Linked DNA regions of Homo sapiens: all the other regions are linked to region 1. Evidence: fine-mapped expression QTL. A gene starts in region 1. Each other region holds a variant in brackets. All regions are shown on one strand. Distances are from middle to middle. Region 1 holds the start of MMP17 (matrix metallopeptidase 17). Region 2 overlaps SFSWAP (splicing factor SWAP). Region 3 overlaps SFSWAP (splicing factor SWAP).

What was found. PIP is the estimated chance that this variant, and not a neighbour inherited with it, causes the effect.
Region 2: its variant is the best candidate, but not a certain one, in a credible set for the expression of MMP17 in lung (GTEx, PIP 0.55).
Region 3: its variant is the best candidate, but not a certain one, in a credible set for the expression of MMP17 in aorta (GTEx, PIP 0.65).

Annotation. Positions count from the first base shown.
Region 1 is chr12:131,825,762-131,830,977 of GRCh38, forward strand. It overlaps MMP17 (matrix metallopeptidase 17), which reads left to right and starts at 2,632. Exons shown (of 10, transcript NM_016155.7): 1 at 2,632-2,892. The coding sequence starts at 2,734. RefSeq lists silencers at 2,497-2,626, 4,616-4,875 and an enhancer at 4,359-4,968.
Region 2 is chr12:131,798,637-131,803,852 of GRCh38, forward strand. It overlaps SFSWAP (splicing factor SWAP), which reads left to right. Exons shown (of 18, transcript NM_004592.4): 17 at 401-473; 18 at 787-1,102. The coding sequence ends at 852. It also overlaps the pseudogene RNA5SP378. Among named protein-coding and RNA genes, the nearest start is that of MMP17, 27 kb to the right of the region's middle. RefSeq lists an enhancer at 1,694-2,543. The variant G/A (reference allele first, on the strand shown) is at 3,051.
Region 3 is chr12:131,753,934-131,759,149 of GRCh38, forward strand. SFSWAP (splicing factor SWAP) reads left to right here. Exons shown (of 18, transcript NM_004592.4): 9 at 435-566; 10 at 1,453-1,546; 11 at 2,540-2,711. Among named protein-coding and RNA genes, the nearest start is that of SFSWAP, 45 kb to the left of the region's middle. The variant A/G (reference allele first, on the strand shown) is at 2,181.

The DNA of each region.
Region 1 (5,216 bases):
TTTTCGTGGCAGGGTCTCGCTCTGTCTCGCCGGAATTCCTGTGCTTAAGTGATCCTTCCACTTCAGCCTCCCAAGTAGCTGGGACCACAGGCACACACCACCATGCACAGCTATTTTTATATTTTTAGTAGAAACATGGGTTTCGCCATATTCGTCAGTCTGGTCTCAAACTCCTGAGCTCAAGCGATCCGCCTGCAATTCAGCCTCCCAAAGTGCTGGGATTACAGGTGTGAGCCACCGTGCCGTCATGATTTTTCAGCGTTGCAAAGCTGATGGGAGAAGAGCGATTTCTTGCGGGGCTTGGATCTCAGCGGCTTTCAGATGTCCGAATGGGGTGGCAGGCTTGAAGGGAACACAGCAGCCATGGTGCCAGGCAGCTGCTTTGAGGAAGGTCAAATTCCCGATGTCTAACCAAGCATCTCCAGTTCACCAGCCGCCACCAGGCCTTTCTGGGGAGAACAGTGGCCTGCCTGTAAGGCCCTTCTCACATTTGTACATCCCAAGCCACTGTCGCCCAAGCTCCATAAACAAGCCATCTCCCTTCAATGCCAGCAAGCCCCGCGGTGAAGCCCCTTGCCAGCACCGAGCTACAGCCCCTCAACAGCGTCCTGTTCCAAGTCTCAGATGTGTATGAGCCCCATGATGCAGTGGGGGCACTGGCCGCGTTCCCTCTTCTGAGTCCTCGACCCAGCTTTGCCTGCCATCCACCCTCCCTTCCTCTGACTTCAGCACCTCTGATTTCCTGTAGAGAATCCCTTCCAGCCCAGGGCTTCAGCTCACTTCCCTGCCCCTGGCCCCACGATCAGGTCCTGACCCAGAATCCAGAGAGAGGTGGCCTTGGGACCATTGGTTGAGAAAGAGTCTGTCTCTGGCTGGGCCTGCTGAGGGGGAAGGATGCACAGGAGCTGCCCTGGGCCGTCTTTGCCCCACACAGAGATGGACTGAGAGAAACCGCGTTCTGACGCTGTTGCTGTGAGACTTGGTCCAGCCCTGCCTGACTTTGGCACACGCTAGGACGCCACCGTTTCCTGAGCCCATACCCATACGCTTCCTTTCCTTGACTACAGCCGCTTTGGCTGGGTCTCTGCTCTGGAAACCAGGTTGTCCTGATGCACTTGGTCAAAATCCCGGATGAGGCCAGGTGCGGTGGCTCACGCCTGTAATCCCAGCACTTTGGGAGGCCAAGGCGGGCTGATCACCTGAAGTCAGGAGTTCAAGACCAGCCTGGCCAACATGGTGAAACCCCGTCTCTACTAAAAATACAAAAATTAGCTGGGCACGGTTGTGCACGCTTGAAATCCCATCTACTCAGGAGGCTGAGACAGGAGAATCATTTGAATTTAGGAAGCAGAAATTACAGTGAGCCAAGATCGTGCCACTGCACTCCAGCCTGGGCAACAGAGCAAAAAAAAAAAAAAGAAAGAAAGAAAAAACAATCCGGGATGTCCTGTGAAAGTCCCCACCTCCTACAGGTGATCCCATCAGTCCGAACCAAGGTCATCTGAAGCAGGTGTGGAATCACCCTGTTCAGACCGGGCCAGGGAGGCTCTGAGGGCAGCAGGGACAGGATGGGCCAGAGTACCCAGGGAAGCGGGGGGGGGGGGGGGGGGGTGGTTGGGGGGAGTCGGCCCTCACAGGAGGGGAGGGGCACCACTTCCCTGAGACCAGTTCTGGTAAAAGGGGCCGAGCCTCAGTTTCCCTGTCCGTAGAATGAGACCTCAGTCCTGACAGTACCAGCTGCGATTTGGGGTGGTGGAGCAGGAGGGCCTGGGAAGGAGGGGAAGCCATGCTGTCCAGCACGAGGAGAAGCTGAATAAAGGCAAGGGTTACCCTTGAACCTCACCCCCTGCCCTCTCCCAAGATCTCCCACTCGGTGGGCAGCCTGTACGCAACTTGCACGAGTTCAATCCACACAAGCGCCTGCTCGGGCTCTGACCCTGGCTCTGCCGCTTGCCCGCTCCAGGACCTCCCATAAGTTACTTCATTTCTTTGGGCCTCAGTTTCTTTGTCTGCGAAATGGAAATCATAGTTTTCATCTCATAAATGTTGTAAGTAAATGAAATTATTTATGTAACTCCTGGGCATGTGCCAGGCACACGCTGCGCTCCAACAAACATTACAAGTTAACATTCTCGCTCCCAGGCCCGCAGGGACCGCAGAGCCTCCGCCGAGGACCCCAGCCCCCCCAACACCCGCCCTCGCCCTCCAGTCCCCCGCGCCCCCCAAGCCCCACCCTCCCTCTCCCGCGGTCCGCGGGCTCCACCAAGCGCCCACCTGCTGCGCTGCGGCGGCGGCTCCGGGGCCTGAACCCGGGTCTGAACCCGGGCCTCGGCGCCGTGGGGGGTGGACCCGGGAGCGCGGCCGGAGAGGGGAGTCAGGGTCAGCTCCCCGCAGGCGCCCCGACCCCCGCCTCCGCGCCCATCCCGCGCGTCCCCGCCGCCCCAAGAGCGTCCTAAGACACCCGGGGAAACGCCTTCCCTGTGATGCCGCGGACCCAGTCCCGTCGCGGACACGGCGGGGCGGGCGGGGGTGGCAGCGTCCGAGGCGGCGCGGGCCCTTTAAGGCGGCCGGCCTCGTTAGCATACATTTGCATGGCCCCGCCCCGCCGCTTGAGGCTGCCGCGCGGGGCTCAGTCCGGCGGGGGCGCCGCGGAGAGCGGAGGGCGCCGGGCTGCGGAACGCGAAGCGGAGGGCGCGGGACCCTGCACGCCGCCCGCGGGCCCATGTGAGCGCCATGCGGCGCCGCGCAGCCCGGGGACCCGGCCCGCCGCCCCCAGGGCCCGGACTCTCGCGGCTGCCGCTGCCGCTGCTGCTGCTGCTGGCGCTGGGGACCCGCGGGGGCTGCGCCGCGCCCGCACCCGCGCCGCGCGCCGAGGACCTCAGCCTGGGAGTGGTGAGCGCGCGGGCGGGACGGGCGCGGAGCTCCTGGGCCGGAGCCGGGGGTCTCCGCGGGCCGGGTGGCGGGGACCGGGAAGACCCCAGCAGTGCACGTCGGCGTCGCGCGGGAGCCCTGGCGCCCTGGACCCATTTCCTGGGTGGGGAGACTGAGGCAGGGACGCGGGCTGAGCGACCGGGCGAGCGCACGCGAGTCCTGGGGAGGCGCCGGCTGCCGTCCCGGCTCCGTGCGCTGGGAGCGCGCCGCAGCCGCAGGAGCCCGTGGAGTTGTGAGGGGGTCGCCCACCCGGAGCCCGGGTCGCCGGCTTGCAGCAGCCCCGGAGCAGCCGGGCTGGGCGAGAGCAGGCATCGCGGCCGCCCCGAGCTCTGCGCGCTGCGTGCGTTCCGGGTGGGAGTGGCGGGGGCAGGAGCACGCACCCACAAAGCGAGGAAGGGCAGGGGCTACGGAGTGGGGGCACCCCGAAAGCCTTGAGCCCCCGAGTTTGCTCGGTTGAGGGTGTTGGGGGCACAGGGATGCTGGCCCCCAGCTCCCCACTGGACAAGGACCTGGCCCTCAGCCTCCTTCCCCTCCACCCCAGGTCGGCCAGGCTGGCCCTGCCTTGCCCTGGTACAGTGCTGAGCCGGGGGCGCGGGGAGAGCCTTCCTCACTCCACACCCAGTAGCTGTCCCCAGCTCAGCTTAGAAACCCTGCCTGGGGGCAGCGACGTGGCCTCTTCCTACAGCCCCCTCCCCTGTTCCGCAGCCGGGACTCGCGTCTCCTGTGGACCCGGAAGATTTAGAGCACACGTCGTGGGGTCAGCGCCCCCCCGCTGGGGCGGCCGGGTGAACTCCCGCTGGGTTCGTTGGTTCCTTCTGAGGCTCCTGCCCCACCGCTGCCTTCAATGGACTCCTACCCAGGGAGTCGGGCCAGGAGCCGAGGCCTCCCCGCCCCACACAAGTACTCGGCCTGGCCCTCGTCCGCGGACAGTCTCCCAGTGGGGTCCTGGCAGGGCCCCTCGCCCAGCGCAGTGGACATTCAGGAGCTCCAAAACCTTGGGGTCCAAGCAAGTCAGCGCAGGTGTATTTCAGGCAGTCGAGGCATATGGAGGGGCCACTTGGGTGGCACCCGCAGCCCCTGTGGTTGGCAGGACTTGGCCAGGGGGTCTGGATGGGAAGCCGATTTGGCCACCGTTTGCCCCAGGCCCCGAAGCCATCTGGGAGGGTGCTGGCCACTGTCCCTGCTGCCCGCGTCCAGGTGCCTGCAGGTCCCCACAGTGGCTTCCTTCCAGCCAGGCAGCCTGTGAACTTGGGGTGCCCCCCTCCACCTCCTCAAGACCCTTTTGTAGGTGCGGATCTCCCGGATCCCCCACTGAGAATCACGCCCTGGGGGCCTGGGGTCTCCAGCTGTGGAGGGAGGTGAACCCAGGCCCGCCTTCCAGGTCCGAGGGTGCCGCAGAAGGGGCCGGGGCAATGCCAGGGAAGGACTCAAGGTGGGGCCCACACACTCAGGAGGATGGACCCCCGGCCGAGCCATGTTGGCTGATCAGACCCAGTGCGGTTTGGAAGTTTCTCGCCACCCACCTGCCCCCCTGCCCGGAGAGAGTGGGTCAGGCGCCCTCCTCTCGGCTGGTACCTGCGCCTCGGTCTCTCCTGGCACCCCGGGGGTCACCCGCCCCGCGCCCTGCGACAGCACCGAGCGGAGGATGTGGCTCCCCAGCCTGGCCGGGGGCAGTGAGTGGGGCCCCGGTGTCCAGCCGGAGAGGGAGGACGCTGCGGGCAGCCCCCTGCCTGGAGCCCCGCTCCGTGTCGGGCCCGGCCTGGCGTGGAGCCTCCGTCCTGCCGCGGCTTCCTGCTCACACTGGCGGTGCGGGGCGTCCTCTGCTGGCCCTCGGGGAACCGCGGGCCGAGCTCAGGCCCAGGGGCGGGCGGCTTCCCCGCGGGGAGGGACGAGGAGGCCGGGATCTGGGCGGGAGCGGGGACTCCTCCTCCGCCCGCTCGCCGGAGGCGCTCCCGGAGTGGACTGATATTCAGGTCTGGGCGCCAGGGACGAGAAGTGCTCCTTTGTCTCAGAGCTGCAGACAGAGCTGCACCCAGCAGGGCTGGAGCCGGGGCTGGAGGGGAGGGCCCGCCCCGGAGCGCCCCCCGTATGCACGTGAACAAGGCCGGGATTCAGGCTGCTGGGCTGCGGAGCCGGGCTTTCAGGAGCCCCCGGCGGGGACAAAAGAGCGCACTGTCCCCCCGGGGGTCCTTGGCGGGGCTGCTTGTCCTTGTGGGCCTGAGTTTTTTGTCTTTCTGTGTTTTGAGTACGACATACAGCGAGCAGCCCAGGGTCTCCACAGGCGT
Region 2 (5,216 bases), 27 kb before region 1:
CCCAGCACTTTGGGAGGCCAAGGCGGGTGGATCACCTGAGGTCAGGAGTTCGAGACCACCCTGACCAATATGGTGAAACCCCGTCCCTACTGAAAATACAAAAATTAGCCGGGCATGGTGGCACACGCCTGCAATCCCAGCTACTCAGGAGGCTGAGGCAGGAGAATTGCTTGAATCTGGGAGGCAGAAGTTGCAGTGAGCTGAGAACGTGCCATTGCACTCCAGCCTGGGTGACAGAGTGAAACTCTTGTCTGGAAAAAAAAAAAAAGATACTGGAAGCAGATGCAGTGGGCACTTCTCAGTTCTAGAGTTGGGGTTCGGAGGTGGGGATGCTGTTCACTGGCCTTGGCTCAGCATCTTCACACGGTTGTAAGCTCTGCTCTCTCTCTCTCTGCATTAGGGGAGTCTCTCAGGAAAAAGAAGCCCAGATCTCTTCAGCAATCGTTTCTTCCGTGCAGAGCAAAATCACTCAGGTCAGTGGGCACGCCCCCCTCCCGCTCCCAGCCTTTCATCAAGGGGCCTCGTGGTTTCTCTGTTGCTAATTTTCATTCCCTGTCCCTCCTGTCCCTGTCATGGGACAGGGATCTCGGGCAAAATACCACAGGCTCTGGGTGAGGCCGAGGGCAAAGCCGTGTGGCCCGCACCCTGCACAGCCAGGCTCCTCCGCCGCCCCCACGGTGCTAGCACCGTCTGGTCTTGACCACCAACTCGTTGATGAATTTCTTCACCACGTGGGTTGTCTGGCCAGGTCTTCACAGGTTCTCCTCTGTGTCTCGCCCTGCACAGGATCTCATGGCCAAAGTCAGAGCGATGCTTGCAGCTTCCAAAAACCTGCAAACCAGCGCTTCCTGAGACGGGGCCAGCGGAGGCAGAGCCGGGAGGCTGCGTGGGCTTCTGGGCAGGCTCACGCAGACGCCGGCCACACCATCCACCTGGCCGCCTCCATGGACCCTTGGTGGCTTTTGTAAATTAATTTTTGATGACATTTTGAGTTTTAAGATTTCTGACCAGCAGTCTCTTACCTGTATATTTGTAAATATATCATGTTTCTGTGAAAATGTATTATGAAATAAAATGGGAGGAAACACCTTTTCTAGCTAGACCCTGGCGTGGTTTCTTCCTTCTCTCCTTGGTTGGCTTCTGGGTCTGTTTGACCGTCTGTCATCTGTTACACGTGTAGTCATGGAGGTGTGGCAGGGACAGGTGGGCAGCACTGGGCCTCCCTGTCCTGGGCCCCCAGCCCTCCGACAGCAGCCACTGGACTCCCCTTCCCCGTCTCCACGCCTCCTGCGGTCACCGCACACCCCTTCTTCCCAGGCCGTCAGCTCCCCGTGGGCATGTGTCCCTGCCGGCACCCATGCTGCAACTGCCGGACAGGCCCTCCCTGCGGCAGTGGTGCACAGCAGGGGAGCAGCCCAGCCCCGCCTCACCATGCTGAGCACCGCATGTTGCCTTGAGCGCCGGCTGCTTGCTCCTGGCGCCTTTCCTGACGTGCAGATGCCCGGGACTCCACTGCAGGCTTCGGCCCCCCAGTGGAAACACAATTTGTGTGTAGCTGAGGGTCCGGCCACCTGGAGTTGGGGCTCGTAAGGTCCTTACACCAGAAATGAGGATTTGCTGCTTGTCTGCTGTAGGCAGGTCACAGTGACACTTTTGTCCCCACAGGAAGGACACTCCCTGGCGTTCACTTAAACGCCTGCTGTGCCGAGGTCAAGTTCCATTGTCAGTTCTGCCAATTTACCAAAACCCAGAAATTGAATTACGGTTTTTCCTCCTTATGGCGCTTGGGGTCCAGACGCTGCCTGCCCGCGAAGGCCAGTGTGGGTGAGGCAGGTGGGCAAGCTGGGGCAGGTGGGTGGGTGGGGCCAGGCACACACACAGGCACAGGCCCCACAGCTGCCCACAACCACTCAGAAATGCTACAGGCCCTGGATGAGGCAGAGGGCAAAGTCGTGTGGCCTGCACCCTGCACAGCCAGGCTCCTCTGCCACCCCCACCCCCACGGTACCATATACCTGGTTCCTCTCACAACCAGTGGCCAACTTCATGTAGCACTCTATGCATCTCCCGATGCGTTGGTTTCTGAGATGACATCACTCAGGGTCCCCCCGCCCACGGCTTGCAGTAGCCATCCATCCCACAAATGCTCATCGGCCCCTCCGCACCTGGACGTGAAGCCGTCTCCAGGAAGACACTGGCTTCCTCCCGCAGCAGCGCACTGCGGTTCAGTGCAGGGCTCCCCAGTGGCTGCTCCGGGTCGCAGGTGGCCTTTGCTGCCGGGTCAGTGCTGTGGTGACCGTCCTCGGGCAGATGCTGCCCACATCCTCCTGGTGCAGCGTCTGCAAACATTTTTATCTTTGCTAAATCAGAAAGATGGAAAGGTCTTGATTTTTATTGCATTTCTTCAGTGATGAGTCAAATGGCACAGTTTCCCTTCTGTTTCAAAATGCGTTTCCATTGCTTTGTGAACTCAACCATGTCCATTCCTGTGTGTGGCGATGGAGTTCTTTTTCAATCATAACAACTCTCTACATGTTAGGGGACTTAGCCTTCTCGTATTAGTTATTTTGTAAATGTTTGCCCCAATTTGTCATCGCTGTTTTGACTTGAAGGTTTTTTTACATGGAAAAGTTTTTGTACGTATGTAGTCTTTTTTTTTTTTTTTTTTTTTTTGCCAAAAGCCTCGAGCACCTGATACTCCCAGTTGGTCTCCCATCCAAGTACTAACCAGGCCCAACCCTGCTTAGCCTCCGCAATCAGATGCAACCGGGCCCGTTCAGGCATGGCTGTTCGTGTTTGCCGTGGCCCGTGTTTGCCGTGGCTGTTCATGTTTGCCGTGGCTCGTGTTTGCCGTGGCTCGTGTTTGCCGTGGCTCGTGTTTGCCGTGGCTCGTGTTTGCCATGGCCCGTGTTTGCCGTGGCCCGTGTTTGCTGTGGCTGTTCGTGTTTGCCGTGGCCCGTGTTTGCCGTGGCTCGTGTTTGCTGTGGCCTGTGTTTGCCGTGGCTGTTCATGTTTGCTGTGGCTCATGTTTGCCGTGGCTCGTCTTTGCC[G/A]TGGCCCGTGTTTGCCGTGGCTGTTCGTGCTTGCCATGGCTTCTGGGCACTGCTCCTGAGGTGGGCTCTGTGTGTGCAGAGGTGACCTTGCTTTGCCTCAGGTTTGCGCCTCCAAGTTTTACACACCCTCCTTGTTTGCTGGGTCGTTTTCCACTGTAAAGGGTCGGGGATCATGAGCCAGAAATCTGCATCTTGATGCAGGGAGATCGTTACGTGGGACCGGACGTCAGCAGGATCGTGGTTCTACCCGTGCACCGCCAAGTGGACGTTTATGCCGGCGGCAGCTAGGATCGTCGGAGAGGGCAACACAGACTTGGCCAGCGTCTGGAACATCGGGGAATCCTGAGGGACCTACCACGCCCTGATATAGTGATGTTTTTGTTTGGTGCGTTGGTGCTGGAAGGGCTGGGGCACTTCCCTGGTAGAAGGGAGCAGGCATCAGTGCCTGGAGCAAGGAAGACTACGAAGACTACCCACCCAGCCCTCTAACCACTCGTCTCCAGAGTTGCCATTCATGATGGCCAGTGTCCCCCGGAAATGAGTACAGTGGTGTCACACTCTGCACAGACCCCCTGGTAAAGTCAACAGCACACATGCACTCTAAATACTGGAGCCAGGTGTGGTGCACGCAGTTGAGGTCCCAGCTACTTGAGAGACGGAGGCAGGAGGATCACTTCAGCCCAGCAGGTCGAGACTGCAGTGAGCTGTGATCACGCCACTGTGCTGCCGCTTGGGTGACAAAGGGAGACCCCATCTTTGTTTTGTTTTGTTTTGTTTTGTTTTTTTTGAGATGGAGTCTCACTCTGTCACCCAGGCTGGAGTGCAGTAGCATGATCTCAGCTCACTACAACGTCTGCCTCCCGGGTTCAAGAGATTCTCCTGCCTCAGCCTCCTGAGTAGCTGAGACTACAGGTGCGCACCACCACGCCTAGCTGACCCCATCTTTAAAAATAAAATACTGGGTCAGGCACAGTGATTTAATCCCAGCACCTTGGACGGCCAAGGCAGGAGGATCACGTGAGGCCAGGAGTTCAAGACCAGCCTGGGCAACAGAGCAAGACTCCGTCTCTACAACAAATACAAAAATTAGCCAGACGTGGTGACACCTGTAGTCCTACCTACTCAGGAGGCTGAGGTGGGAGGATAGCTTCAGCCTGGGAGGTCAAGGCTGCAGTGAGCCATGAATGAGCCACTGCACTCCAGCCTGGACAACAAAGTGAGACCCTGTCTCAAAAAAAAAAAAAAACTGTAAAATTAGACTTTGCATAGTGTATACAAGACACATGACTGTGTGTATGACACTGTAGTAATTCCTCACCACCGGCCAGGCACACAGTGGCTCACGCCTATAATCCCGGCACTTTGGGAGGCCAACGCAGGAGGATCGCTTGAAGCCAGGAGTTCAAGACCAGCCTGGGCAACATGGTAAAACTCTGTCTACTAAATTGCAAAAATTAGCCGGGCATGATGGCGGGCACCTGTAGTCCCAGCTACTCGGGAGGCTGAGGCAGGAGAATTGCTTGAACCCAGGAGGCAGAAGTTGCAGTGAGCCGAGATCACGCCATTGCACTCCAGCCTGTGCGACAGAATGAAACTCCAGTCTCAAAAAAAAAAAAAAAAAAAAGTTTTATCACCGCTAGGGACTGTTATGTTAAACCCCGAATGTCTTACTTTATTGGTGATTGAAGAAATTTCCAAGGGTGACTTTGGCTGGACCCCTCACCCATGTGAGATGCAACCCCACCCTCCCTGGGCCTAACTCTCCTGCCATGGACATCTAGACAGCTTCCTGCCTTTCACTGTCGGCAAGGATGCTGCTGGGAAACTAGAGTTTTTCCCCTTTAAAAAGATTCCTTCTGGGGCCGGGCATGGTGGCTCGCGCCTGTAATCCCAGCACTTTGGAAGGCCAAGGTGGGTGGATCACTTGAGGCCAGGAGTTCGAGGCCAGGAGTTCGAGACCAGCCTGGGCAACATAGTGAAACCCCATCTCTACCAAAAAATACAAAAATTAGCTGGGCATGGTGGTGCACACCTATAATTCCAGCTATTCGGGAAGCTGAGGCGGGAGAATCACTTGAACCAGGAGGAAGAGGTTGCAGTGAGCCGAGACGGCGCCATTGCACTCCAGCCTGAGCAATAGAGTGAGACTCTGTCTCAACAACAACA
Region 3 (5,216 bases), 72 kb before region 1:
TCCTGGGAAATGGAATGAAACACGCGAGTTTCTGTGAAAACGACTCTTTCTGGTCATGCTGAGCAAGTCAGACAGGAAATGAAGGAGGTTGAACCATGCTTGCCGACTTGTTTTCAATATAACAACAACAACAACAAACTGCTTATTCTTTGTTATTTCTAAGAATTAGCTTGTGATTGGGGGGAAATGTTAATTAGTAGGAAAAATGCACCTTTTATCACTAAAATCCCCATTTTTCACTCTTGACAACAATCCTGTCTAGTTGACTTTAGTTTCTGTCGTGTGCATCACCTTCAACAAGAGCCTCCCCTAACACACTGTTTATAACTCACATGTCTCTCCGGGCATCTGAGGCGGTGAGGACCCCCGAGCAGCCAGGACTGAGCTTGGCGAGCCCCTGAAGCCCAGGGGTCTCACAGACTCTTCTCCTGCAGTGCACTTGCCCCCGTGGCCGCCATCATCCCCCCGCCCCCCGACGTCCAGCCCGTGATTGACAAGCTGGCCGAGTATGTCGCCAGGAACGGCCTGAAGTTCGAGACCAGTGTTCGTGCCAAGAATGATCAAAGGTCAGAAGAAGAATTTTATATGTTAGGTATATGGCATTTGGGGGTTTCGTTTAGCCTTTTTTTAAAAAAATGTAGGTACAGAATTAATTTTTTTATATATTTTTAAGCCTTTTCTTGGCTCAAATGTCTTTTTTTTTTTTTTTTTTTTTTTTGAGATGGAGTCTTGCTCTGTCACCCAGGCTGGAGTGCAGTGGCGCGATCTTGATTGACTGTAACCTCTACCTCCTGGGCTCAAGCAATTCTCCTGTCTCAGCCTCCTGAGTAGCTGGGACTACAGGCGCGCACCACCACGCCTGGTTAATTTTTGTATTTTGGTAGAGACAGGGTTTCACTGTGTTGGCCAGGCTGGTCTCAAACTCCTGACCTCAAGTGATCCACTTGCCTCAGCCTCCCAAAGTGCTAGGATTACAGATGTGAGCCACCACGCCCAACCAATGTCTTTAGATAAATACATTTTTTAATTGGCTTGTTAAATTGCTTAGACTTGGGTGGTGTTTTTAAATTATGTTACCTGTTTTTTGTTTCATTTTTTAAGTAGGAATTTTGAAGCTACCTAAAATAAAAGCCTATAATTCATGGTTTTCAAGAATCTGCCTTAAAAATCTAGACACAAACCCTTCTTTTTAAAAACCAAGCAATGTCCCACGCCTCAGTACTAATAAAACGTAAAGATATGTTGTCACATTTGCAGCGTGACCTGTGTAACCCCGGGCAAGCGATTTCGACCCCCTGTGTGCAGTCTCCCTCGTCTATAAGATGAGTAGCTAAAACAGTAACCACCTTGTGGGATTGTTGAGATCAGTAAAGAGCTAGGAGAACAGGGCCTGTTGTTACTTCAGTGAGCTTGTCTTGGTAAATGACCCATTTTCTTTCTTTTTCTGCTCAGATTTGAGTTCCTGCAGCCGTGGCACCAGTATAATGCTTATTATGAGTTTAAGAAGCAGTTCTTCCTCCAGAAAGAAGGGGGCGATAGCATGCAGGTACGTGTCTGAATGCAGGGAGGCTGTGAAGCTCTTAGAGGTGGCTCCGCCTTCCAGATCAGAAGTCGCTTTCTGTTTCTTCTCCTACAGGTGAAAGGGCTGGGTGATTCTTCACCTTTTTTTAATGTGTGTCTGGCATACTCCATCTTTCACGTCCCCCTTAGCTCTGGAACCTGATCTGTTGAAAGCATCTGCCCACGTTCACAGCATTGATGATTGTTTGTCCAGCACGTTCTAAACAAACAAAAAAAATCCTGTTCCTTCAACTGTTCGATGTTTTGGCCGTCTACAGTTACTAGCTACCTTTCATGACAGCCGGGTACCTTGCTTCTGTTGTGTTAACATGTATGAAATATATAAAATATAAGTGGGCGCCTCATGCCTGGCCAGCTGGTGCTGGGGGTGTCCTGCAGCACGGCCTCTGCCTGTGCCTGCACGCCCTTCCCCCTCACCAGATCCCCAGCGTGGTGCTGGCGCACTTGGAAGTGCTTTTTGTCCTACAGCCCCCTCTTCTGCCTTTGCTCTGCTCTTCTCAGTTATATAGACACCCTGACATTTTTGTAAAGCCAGTTTTGGTGAGGAGATGACATGGGCCTTACTTCTCAGGAGATTTCTTCAGACCCTTATCTCCAAT[A/G]GCCCACACTGAAAGAAACTGACTCCTCTGTAGGTGATGGGGATAATTTGGTATTTTTAAAGAATTCTGAGTAATCAGTGTCCAAAGAAAAGATACTGAAAATTGGTTCCCAAGGCAGTATTAGGGCTTCAAAGAGTATAGTGTTTTTTCAGACAGGAGAAAATCTTCCATTCCTCTTTGATACATTCCATTGTAAGAAAAAACAGCAGATCTGGATTTGGAAGTCTGTTCCCAGTGCTGCTTGGGCAGTAATGTACAATTGCCGTTGTCCAGTGAAACATATACCGTATACATCTCTCTTTTTTTAAAATTTCTGTATAATTTCCTGCTGACAGTTTATAGTGACATTTAATCTCTAGGCTGTGTCTGCACCAGAAGAGGCTCCCACAGACTCTGCTCCCGAGAAGCCAAGTGATGCTGGGGAGGATGGCGCGCCTGAAGACGCAGCCGAGGTGGGAGCACGGGCAGGCTCAGGCGGGAAGAAGGAGGCATCGTCCAGTAAGACCGTCCCGGACGGGAAGCTGGTGAAAGGTATGCTGCCACTTGCATGTTGGCCTTGCACATTCCACCATAAGTTGGCAAGCGTAGGATCCTCGGTGACCTCAGACTCAGCGCCCTCACCTGCAGGCTGGGGTGGGGTTGGCGGCCCCCTGGAGGTTGCTGTGGTGAAACCTCTGCCTTCCATGCTGTGTCATGCTTGCCTCGCGTGGCATTGGAGGTAACGTGAGTGTGAGCAGCCCTTAGGTATGTGTCTGTTTAACAGTCTGTTCAGTGTACTGGACATTTGTACAGAAAGTTTCAAATAATCCTTTGTACTCCCTGGGACTTCTGAAACTATTTATATGCAAACTGTTGTACCAGTGAAATTCATTTATTAATTTGTCAAAGCAGATTCCTTGAGAATCTCTACCAGGCAATACTTCACTCACTCGATTTCAGTTACTTTGTTATGTTCTTGGAGCAAGACTTTGATGTCACAGGACAGACAGGCATGTAAAAATACAAAGTCAGTGTAATTAAAAAGCAGACAGAAGCAAAGGCCAGAGCAGGCCCTTAGCCAGGAACCTCGTGGAGCAGCAGTGGGCTCCCCCCGCGGGAGGGAGGTTCTGTGGAGTAGAGGCGTTCAGCTGGTGTTGCGAGAGGAACGGGAAGCTCTGAGGCAGGGGTGCAGCCCTAGGCAGGAGCCCCGTGGTGCGAGCTGCCCGGCCCCGTGTTGAGATGCGGTAGGTGGTCAGCAGTGACTTCGGGGGTGGCTGGTGAAGGAGCCTTGGCCAGCTTGCCCCGGTGCACCCTGTCGGGGAGGGGCCAGCACATCTGACAGGCTTTAGGTCAGCGGAATAACTTTATCCAGTCTGGTGACTTTGTGATGCGGTTAAGCCACTGGAGCGACTTCAGAGATTTCTGGTGGCATTGGTGGCCTGGAATGGAGTGTGACAGGTGTGGCAGTGGGGTGAGGTGTGGCAGTGGGGCGAGGCGACAGCTCTTGGGTCAGAAGGAAAGGCAGAGTGGAGACAAGAGATTGAGGAAGTGGGCTGGGGTGATAAGAGGACCGTCCTTTGCATAAAGATGCCTTGTTGTATGAGAATGGTGATCATTCAGCGAAACCAAATCCATGTGGATGAACCGCTAACTAGGCAATTCACTATATGTGTCTTTGGGCCTCTCATTCGAGTAGGTTACCTGAGCACAAGTGATCCAGCTCTCACCCTTCCCGGCCACCCGCATACTCTCACTGGGATAATCAAAGGAATGTAATAAGTAGAGGAGGAAAATGGTTACTGCTCTAGAAACCCGGGGAGAGGTACTGTCTATAGGTCAGGGTAAGGCAGCATACCTGGAGCTTGCAGAGAAGTACCCTTGAGACTCAGGGCAGTGACTCCAGGGGAGTCGACTGTCAGCCACAGAGGGGCAGGCAGGAGGCTGGAACAAGCTGGGAGCTTCCCAGAGGCAGCAGTACCTCATCCCTTCTCACACCCCAGAACACAACCACAGCCCGAGCCTGCCTGCTGCCCCAGGGTTTGTGAGCCCAGGGAAGGCGCCTGACCCAGCCAGCTATGGGGTGTGCAGAGGGGTTGTGAGCCCAGGGAAGGCACCTGACCCCTGCCAGCTGTGGGGCCCGCAGAGGAGCAGCCCTGCCCACAAGGCTGCTGCCAACCAGCGTGACCTTCTCCACACTTCCCTGATTGTCCTAGAACCTGGCAGATGAAACAACACACCGAGAAGTTTACCGTCTACATCCACCCAAGCCTGAGACACTTGAACAGAGATCTACTCAATATCTGACAAAACCCATGCTAACTCTCAGTTCTCAAAAGCACAGGCCAGCCTCTCTTTGAAAAGATGCGGAGACAGAAATGTCATTGCGCCCACAGAGATTCCAAAGTTCGGGAGACACAGCTGAGCCTCCAGGCATATGGGCATCTCTGAAACAGACTCTTGCGTAACAGGAGAAAAATCTTTTAAGTCTCTAATTTGTATTCTACAAAATGGAAAATATTATAAAACTAGTGCTACTGGTAATCAGACATGGAAAAGATTGCTTAGAAATTGCTGTGGAGTGTGGTGGCTCACGCCCATAATGCCAGCACATAGGGAGGCCAGGGCAGGCAGATCACTTGAGTCCAGGAATTCGAGACCAGCCTGGGCAAATGACAAAACCCCGTCTCTGCTAAAAATACAAAAATGTAGCCGGGCATGGTGGCACATGCCTGTAGCACCAGCTCCTCACAGAGGCTGTGAAGTGGGAGGATCACTTAAGCCGGGGAGATAGAAACCAGCCTGGACAACATCGTGAGACCATGTCTCTACAAAAAATTAAATTAAATTAGCCAGGCATGGTGGCACCCATCTGTGCTCCCAGCTACTTGGGAGGCTAAGGTGGGAGGATCTTTTGAGCCCAGGAGACGGAGGTTGCAGTGAGCCAAGACCACGCCACTGTGTTCCAGCCTGCGTGACAGAGGAAGAAAATTATAGGTATCTTTTTAAGTACACAAGCTACAACTAGAAGTTAACACTAGAAAATAAAGTATATGAGAA